2 linked regions of the Homo sapiens genome follow. The protein of the gene in region 2 interacts with the protein of the main gene of each other region in a biochemical or structural test. Each region holds a gene or a part of one and is shown on either strand. Other genes may lie near its edges.

What was found.
Region 1: the proteins of TIMP2 (region 2) and ITGA1 form a complex in vitro, tested with the Homo sapiens proteins (one study listed by BioGRID).

What each region holds. Positions count from the first base shown.
Region 1 is NC_000005.10:52,951,720-52,955,638, reverse strand, and holds part of ITGA1 (integrin alpha-1 precursor), read right to left. Parts: intron 3,233-3,919; coding exon 3,188-3,232; 3' UTR 1-3,187. UniProt on the Homo sapiens protein: Integrin alpha-1/beta-1 is a receptor for laminin and collagen. It recognizes the proline-hydroxylated sequence G-F-P-G-E-R in collagen. Involved in anchorage-dependent, negative regulation of EGF-stimulated cell growth.
Region 2 is NC_000017.11:78,876,518-78,880,436, forward strand, and holds part of TIMP2 (metalloproteinase inhibitor 2 precursor), read right to left. Parts: intron 1-3,919. UniProt on the Homo sapiens protein: Complexes with metalloproteinases (such as collagenases) and irreversibly inactivates them by binding to their catalytic zinc cofactor. Known to act on MMP-1, MMP-2, MMP-3, MMP-7, MMP-8, MMP-9, MMP-10, MMP-13, MMP-14, MMP-15, MMP-16 and MMP-19.

The sequences.
Region 1 (3,919 bases), on a different chromosome or scaffold from region 2:
ATTTTCACTGTGGATCACCCTTTATATTTTCCTTCTTTCAACTCCTTCCTTCTCCTGCAAGTTCATAACATTTTATTAATATCAAAGGAAGGTTATAATTTTAGAAATCAAAATTAAAGAATGGGTGCTGTGTAGCATTATGTTTACTGGGCTTGATATAATCAGTACTTTTGGCATAATTTAAAACATGATTATACTGTGTGTCATTGGATATGTATATAGACACAACATGTTCTCTATCAATATCTATCTATCTATCTATCTATCTATCTATCTATCTATCTATCTATCTGTCTATCGTGTAATCTGTCTCAGTGGTGTGCTGAAGTCAGCTCACACTGGTTGGTAAGAGGTGGCAGATACATTTCCAGGAATTTTGTAAGCTGATTAGGGTCACTTTGGTAGTTTGAAAATGGAGAGAGAATATTTGGACCATGGAAATTGGCAAATGATACAAATCAGAGACTGTTTTTTTTTTCCCTCCTGGACAGTGTGTTGTTAAATAATTTACCAATATACCATTGTAGTTTGGTCAGAAAAGAGAGTGCATACATGGTTCAGTTTACAATGGGAGCAATAATCAATTATTTAGAATACCAAAGTTAGAGAAAAAGAAACTTTTTGGCAATTTGGCCAATAAGTTTATAAATAGTCTTAAATATCACCTGTTTTTCTAATTAAATGTTTTAAAAGTAAATGATAGAGTCTAGTACATTTCTTAATCATTAAATATGTTTTATAACATTTGTACAAAGCTGTTTTGAAACATTTGTTGACTTTTTTTAATCAAACGCTCTGTACTTGTTTTTTAAATAATTGCAGAACTATAAGTTAAACCTAAATATTAATAAAAATGAAACTATATGAAACTATATGAAACTAGATGAATCAAACTTGTCTTGCAGATATAGCTTTTGTGTTTATTTTCTGTAAACTCTGTTTTTTGGTGTTATAGAGCTATTTTTGTATTCAATTTATATGTGTACATGTGTCTGCACATGCACACACACACACACACAAACCTCAACAAATTATAATATTAGAGAAACAGGACTTCTGGTTCATGAAATATTTTACTTAATAGCCAGGAATGACTTATGTTAAAAATTGTGCCGGGCTTATAAGTATCTCTTTGATCTGGCCAACAGCTCTTCCTCTCTTTTCTAAAAACTTCAAAATGCCCTCATTTCTATTTTTTCCCTTTCAGTTAACAATTTAGTTTAAAAGTGCACACTTATGGTTCAGTAAATGGGCTTTGTCTAGTAGTCACAGATGCTGAGTATGAATTTCAATGGATCCGTTAGCTTTACTACTAAGATCTTGCTGAGATCAGAGAAGGGCTTCTGGGCAGGCTGAGCACTGGGGGTGTGCAACATGGTAACTCTGAATAAGAGAAACCCTGAGTTTTACTGGGCAAAGAAAGAACAAGTGGTAGGTATGATTTCTGAACCTGGAAATAGCGAAAATGAAGGAAATTCCAAAAGCGCGTATTTCCAAATAATGACAGGCCAGCAAGAGGACACCAAACCTCTAGAAAGAGGTATTCTTTCTTCCAGCTACTGATGGCTTTGGCATCCCACAGGCGCATTCCTTTGGCCTTCAGGATCTTAGATGCGGATGTGGAGAGTCAAGAGGTAGGCTGACTCTGAGTCTTCAGCTAAATTCTTTGGAAATTAGTTTAAAAAAATAAATTTATAACATTTAATTTCTATGTGGATTTGCTCCTCTTTGAACAAAGCAGAGCCCAGGAGTTTCTGGATGAATACATGTTCTGGTCTTGTTACAGGTTCTGGTAAATCAGATGGAGAAATGTTGTTGCAGAAATGTCAGCAAACTTTACAGCAGTAGTTCACACATGCAGCTACTATACATTCATTCATTGCTATTTTCCTAAGAAATGGAGCAACCTAGGAGCTTATGCTACAGTAGATTCCAATGAACCATAATGACTACTTCAAGAACAAAGAAGCACATACAAAGGTGTGATATCTTCCTGTTGGTTTGAGTTTTCAAACCTGAAATTCTTTAAAATACATTTCTGGGATTTTATTTAAATATTGATGCAACACACCTAAAAAGCAGTGACTTCTTGGTAAAATGTAATACTGAAATGGAAAATTGTCTTTTCAAAAAAATAAGAAGTGTGGTTGGAAATTAAATACCTTTTAAAAAATTAAAAATAAACACACTCTCACAGCTTGGGGGTTTGAATGAACCCTGTACCAAGGAGTTGAGACAACTCTTTCTTTGGGTCACATACTGGAACCCTTAGCATTCAAAAGCTGCTCAGCAAAGATAATTTCAGCATTTCAGTGGCATCTTTCTCTGCTGTCGTATTTCATTCAGAAGCCATTTTAGCATGTCCCCCATATATGGCTTTTCATGACAAATCACTGTGATGCCACACAAAACTACTTTAAGTGTTTTTTCAGTATAAAAGAGTTTTGCATTTAGAGCTCAATATCAAAATTAAGCATGTTCTGTAAAAGCTTAATTTAACCCATTTAATATACTTGTTTTTAAACGAGTCTATCCTGATTTTCCATCCTAGATAAAATTTTAGCTCAATTGCAGTACTTTCCAATCACCTTGGGCAGGGAGGGAAAATTTTTAGGTATAGAACCCAACACAAAGATGCTAAATGTATTCTTGGTGACTTAATTTTCAATCCATATTGTATATGGATTCTACCAAGGGAAAATATTCTCATTTGAATAGGGAGAAATGATCTTTTTCAGGTAATTCTTTTCTTGGCATTTACGAGTGCTGACTGTCATGCTGAACATGGATATCCAACAGGAATCAAGGGGAAAAGCTTAATTTATATTGTTTTGAAAATAGATGTTTCTATGATCATAAAAATCTTTTTATATATTCCTTAAATATTTTGGATGGTGATTTAATACATAAACATATTTGTACAGGTTTTTTTAAAAACACTTTGTAATTTTGCTTACTCAACAAAAATGAGTAATTATGTAAAATATTTTTTGTCATTTTATAAAATATGTCTTTTTGGTATTGTTTTTGGATAATGCATGACCTGTCATTTTCCAAGTAATGAATCCCTGATGGATTACATAGTTACATGACTATGTCATGAATTATACATTTCTTGTCACATATTTGAGGCAAACCTGAGGATAGATTATTGAATAATTGTTATTATTTTCTTTCATAAAATATTTCATTTCTCCATTTTCTTTTTCAGTGGTCTTTTGAAGAATCCAATCTGTTGAGAAAACACAAAACATAACACAATTAACTATTTTAATTTAGGTAGCAAATATTAATCCTTTGGATAGAATTAAATTTAATAGTATATTGGCAATGCTGGGCACACAACTAATATAATTAAGAAATATTTTCTCATTGACCTATTAATATTCAATGTCAAAAAATGACATTTATTAAATTGCTGTTTCTTTTTTTTTCTTTTCTTTTTTTTTTTTGAGACAGTCTCACTCTGTCACCAGGCTGGAGTGCAGTGGCGTGATCTCCGCTCACTGCAACCTCCGCCACCCGGGTTCAAGTGATTCTCCTGCCTCAGCCTCCTGGGTAGCTGGGACTACAGGCATGCACCACCATGCCCAGCTAATTTTTGTATTTTCAGTAGAGACGGGGTTTCACCATGTTGGCCAGGATGGTCTCTATCTCTTGACCTCATGATCTGCCTGCCTCGGCCTCCCAAAGTGCTGGGATTACAGGCGTGAGCCATCGCGCCGGGCCGCGGTTTCATTTTTAATATTTTCATTGGTTAAATACACCATGACCCCTAGTAAAATATAGTATACACATTGAACTAATTAAAAGCTTCTGGGAAAATATTTTGGGAGACAAACTGCAATTAGCTAGCATTGTCTCTTCTTTGCCATCATCTTTTTTTTCAGGGATGTGGCAGAGAAATTTCCATCAAATG
Region 2 (3,919 bases):
CCATATATATTTTTTTGAGACGGAGTTTCACTTTTGTCACCCAGGCTGGAGTGCAATGGCTTGATCTCAGCTCACTGCAACCTCCACCTCCCAGGTTCAAGCAATTCTCCTGCCTCAGCCTCCTGAGTAGCTGGGGTTACAGGTAACTGCCACCTTGCCAGGCTAATTTTTTTTTTTTTTGGTATTTTTAGTAGAGACAGGGTTTTAGCATGTTGGCCAGGCTGGTCTCGAACTCCTGACCTCAAGTGATCCGCCCACTTTGGCCTCCCAAAGTGCTGGGATTACAGGTGTGAGCCACCACACCCAGCCTGAACAGGCAAGTTTCTTCCGCCCCAAATGCCATCTCCCCTCTCTGCCTGGAGAACTTTTCTTCATTCTTCAAGACCCAGCTAAAATAGCCCTTTTCTGTCTTCCTCTGGGAAATCCTGTCCTTCTGCAGCACTTGGTATATTCCCCATCTCTTTTCCATCCTGCTGTCAGTTCCTGCACACCTGTCTGCTCAGGGCCCTGGGAGGTCCTAACAGGTTGAGGCTAGATTCTGACTGCAGAACAGTTGGTGCTCACTAACTCTTTGCCAGATGGAGCTGAGATGACGCTGACAACTTTGGGCTGGTGGCCCAGGTGCAGTTTGTCCTTGGCTCTCTTGCTCCCTGCCTAATCTATATACCTTACGACAATGCTGCACCAAAAATGTTTATGCAAATTAGTCAATGTGCCAGATTAACTTGGTCAAAGTTTGCTCTTCATGTAGCAGAGTCACCAGCTCACAAGCAAACCAGGGCCAGGCACGGTGGCTCACTCCTATAATCCCAGCACTTCGGGAGGCCGAGGCGGGCGGATCACTTGAGGTCAGGAGTTTGAGACCAGCCTAGCCAACATGGTGAAACCCCATCTCTACAAAAAATACAAAAATCCCAGCCACTTGGGAGGCTGAGGCAGGAGAATCGCTTGAACCCAGGAGGTGAAAGTTGCAGTGAGCTGAGATCATGCCACTGCACTCCAGCCTGGGCAACAGAGTGAGACTCCGTCTTTTAAAAAAAGAAAAGAAAGAAAAGGAAAAAAAGCAAGCCAGCAGAATCCAAAGGAATCAACAGTTCCAGTAGGAGCAGCAAGCCGGCCTTTATTACAGTCTGCTGAATTCTGTATGTTATTTTGGAAATTTCTGGAGCTGCTTTTCTTTTCTTTCTTTCTTTTTTTTTTTTTTGAGATGGAGTCTAGCTCTGTCATCCAGGCTGGAGTGCAATGGTGCAATCTTGGCCCACTGCAACCTCCGCCTCCTGGGTTCAAGCAATTCTCCTGCCTCAGCCTCCCAAGTAGCTGGGATTACAGGCACGCGCCACCATGCCCGGCTAATTTTTTGTATTTATTTTAGTAGAGACGGGGTTTCACCATGCTGGCCAGGATGGTCTTGAACTCCTGACCTCGTGATCCGCCTGCCTCGGCCTCCCAACGTGCTGGGATTACAGGCATGAGCTACCGCGCCCGGCCTTGGAGCTGCCTTTCAATGGTCCACTAAGCCGCACAATGCTTAACGCACAATAGGCACTCAACAAGCATGTCACTGGAGTTCAGAAAATAAGCAAAGATTACTTCAAAACGGCCAAAATGTTGCATCCTACCATGGGCATTGAGGTTCACATGCTGTTCTCTTACAAAAACGCCTAAGGCTCCCAGGTGGCAGCTGGGCACTTATTTGAAGGAGGCAGCAAGAGACAGAGATCCTGCATTCACCCCTGGATGGCTGCGTGATCTTTGAGAAGCTCCTTGACTTCACTGAGCCACAGTTGTTCACACCTAAGACAGAGACGATGACAACAGTCTTGACACTTCACAAGGTCGTGGTGACTGTTAGAGGGGCTGGTGTGGAGGCTGCGGTGCCCGGGAACTAATGCGTGTACAGTTCAGGACCACGAGCATCGCATAGACAAGCAGGGCGAATTCTCCCGCTCCCGTGGGTGAGGGATTGGGACGGTGGCATCATGCCACTCAGGTACACAGACCCGGTCCTGGTCAGCAGGCCACAGACTCTCGATTTGATGCAGCTTCCCAGCGTGCTAGCTTTGCCTGGGGGCTGCAGATTACACACTTTCCTTCTTTAAAGTGTCAGAAAAGAGGAGGCTGGTCAAATCAAGGGTCCAGGGTAGCCACGTGGGGTTAGGACTAGAAAGTGAACTGGCGAGGAGGCCGCCAGATGCCTGCAGGGAAGTGGGGGTGAGGGGCAGGGAAGTGGGGGTGAGGGGCCTGGAGGAGCAGAGCCTGAGGGCATCTCCATCTCCCCTGGGCTGCTTTAGTCTGCCCCTGGGGAACAGAATTCAGATTCTTCAGGGTCCCTTTAAATTGGGGGTGGGCACCTCCTCCCCCACTTTGCAAAATGAGAAATTACATGAAAGAAGGAAAATGGGAATCAAGAGAGGCAAAGAAGGACCAGTTCCACGGCAACCTTCCCCAAAGCACCAGCACGCCGCAGACATGAAGGAGAGGGGCCAGCTGACAGCTCTGATCGGTGCACACCAGTTGGCATAGCGGGATCTGCACCGCTGACCTGCTCAGAGCAGCGGGTACCTGTCGGGGGTTGTTGCCCAGAGGTGACAGCAGGTGAAGAGAGGGTACAGGGTGAATCCTGCATACAGCAGGCCTTGCCTGGGAGGAGCATCCAATCCAGGCAAGATGACAGACGATGGATAGGAACACAGAGAAGGAGAGTTTCCAATGCCCAGTGGTGGACAGAGGAGGAGGGAGAGAGAGCTCTCCGGAATACATTTCCATGCCAATGGCAATGGTCCGCACTCTGAGCTCCAGGATGGACCACCAGTTCTGTAGGGGAAAGCAGGCCACTTCAAAAGAGGGAGGGCCTCTCCGAGTCCCAGGCCATGTGAAGAACAGGGCTGGGGAAAGCGAAGAGACATAAGGAATCTGGGAAGAAATGAAAATTGTGGCACAGACACGTTTACTGAACACCTACTGGGTGCTGGGCCTGGTGTTAGGCACTGGGGTGGGTGTCAGCCCATCTCCTGTCCATGCCCCCGAGAGGGGCTGCTCTGCTCCTCTGCCCCTTCCCCAAGGAGCCAGAGGCAGCTGCGAGAGGGGGAGTCTTTATAAAGACTCTCGTTCTAACTGCCCTGAGCCCAGAAACCACGGCCTCTCCCTGGGCGTCTCAGATTTCGTTTTTCCTTCTTTCCCTTCTGCTGTGAACACAACATCTGGGTTTGAGATCAAGGGTGATACACTGGCTGATGAATTCACCGCCAGATGCCGGCTACTGGAATGTACAACCGTCGGCTGAATTCAAAGCACACGCAACTGCAGGGTCCCCACCCCCACCCCTCCAGCCCAGGACACCATATGATGTCACTTCCCCCCTGCAAAAACAATCCCGAGCGCACCCGCCAGAGTGGGGACGGAAAAGAACCGGGTGGGCGGAAAACCAAGGTCGCGGGAGACGATCCAAAGAGGATGGGCTACGGTCAGACTTCGACAGTCACAACCGCCCCTGGAAAACCATCAGAGGCCGGACCGGCTGCTGCTGCTCTCGGAGGGGAGCAGACAGTGAAGGGGGCTTGCTGGAGAACCTGGTGTCACCAGCATGTGCCAGGGCCAAGGGCTGGCCGGAGGGGCGGCACTCTCCACAGACTCCAACCACGCCAGCCCCAGGCAGAGACGCCACGGCTTCTGTGGCACGGTCCTCCCTTGTTCTCTCTCCTCGGTGTCCCCTCTGCTGCCATCAACACGTGGGTCCTGCGTCCTCACGTCCCCTTCATACACCCACCAACATCTTTCCAATCCTCCTGTGTCCACAGAAGTACTATGGAAGTTCCTGCGGAAAATAAGAACAAGCCATGCCCACAATTGGGGGAGGGAGACAGACCCCAAAAGAAAATTGCCTCGAAAGGCCGGGTGCAGTGGCTCACACTTGTAATCC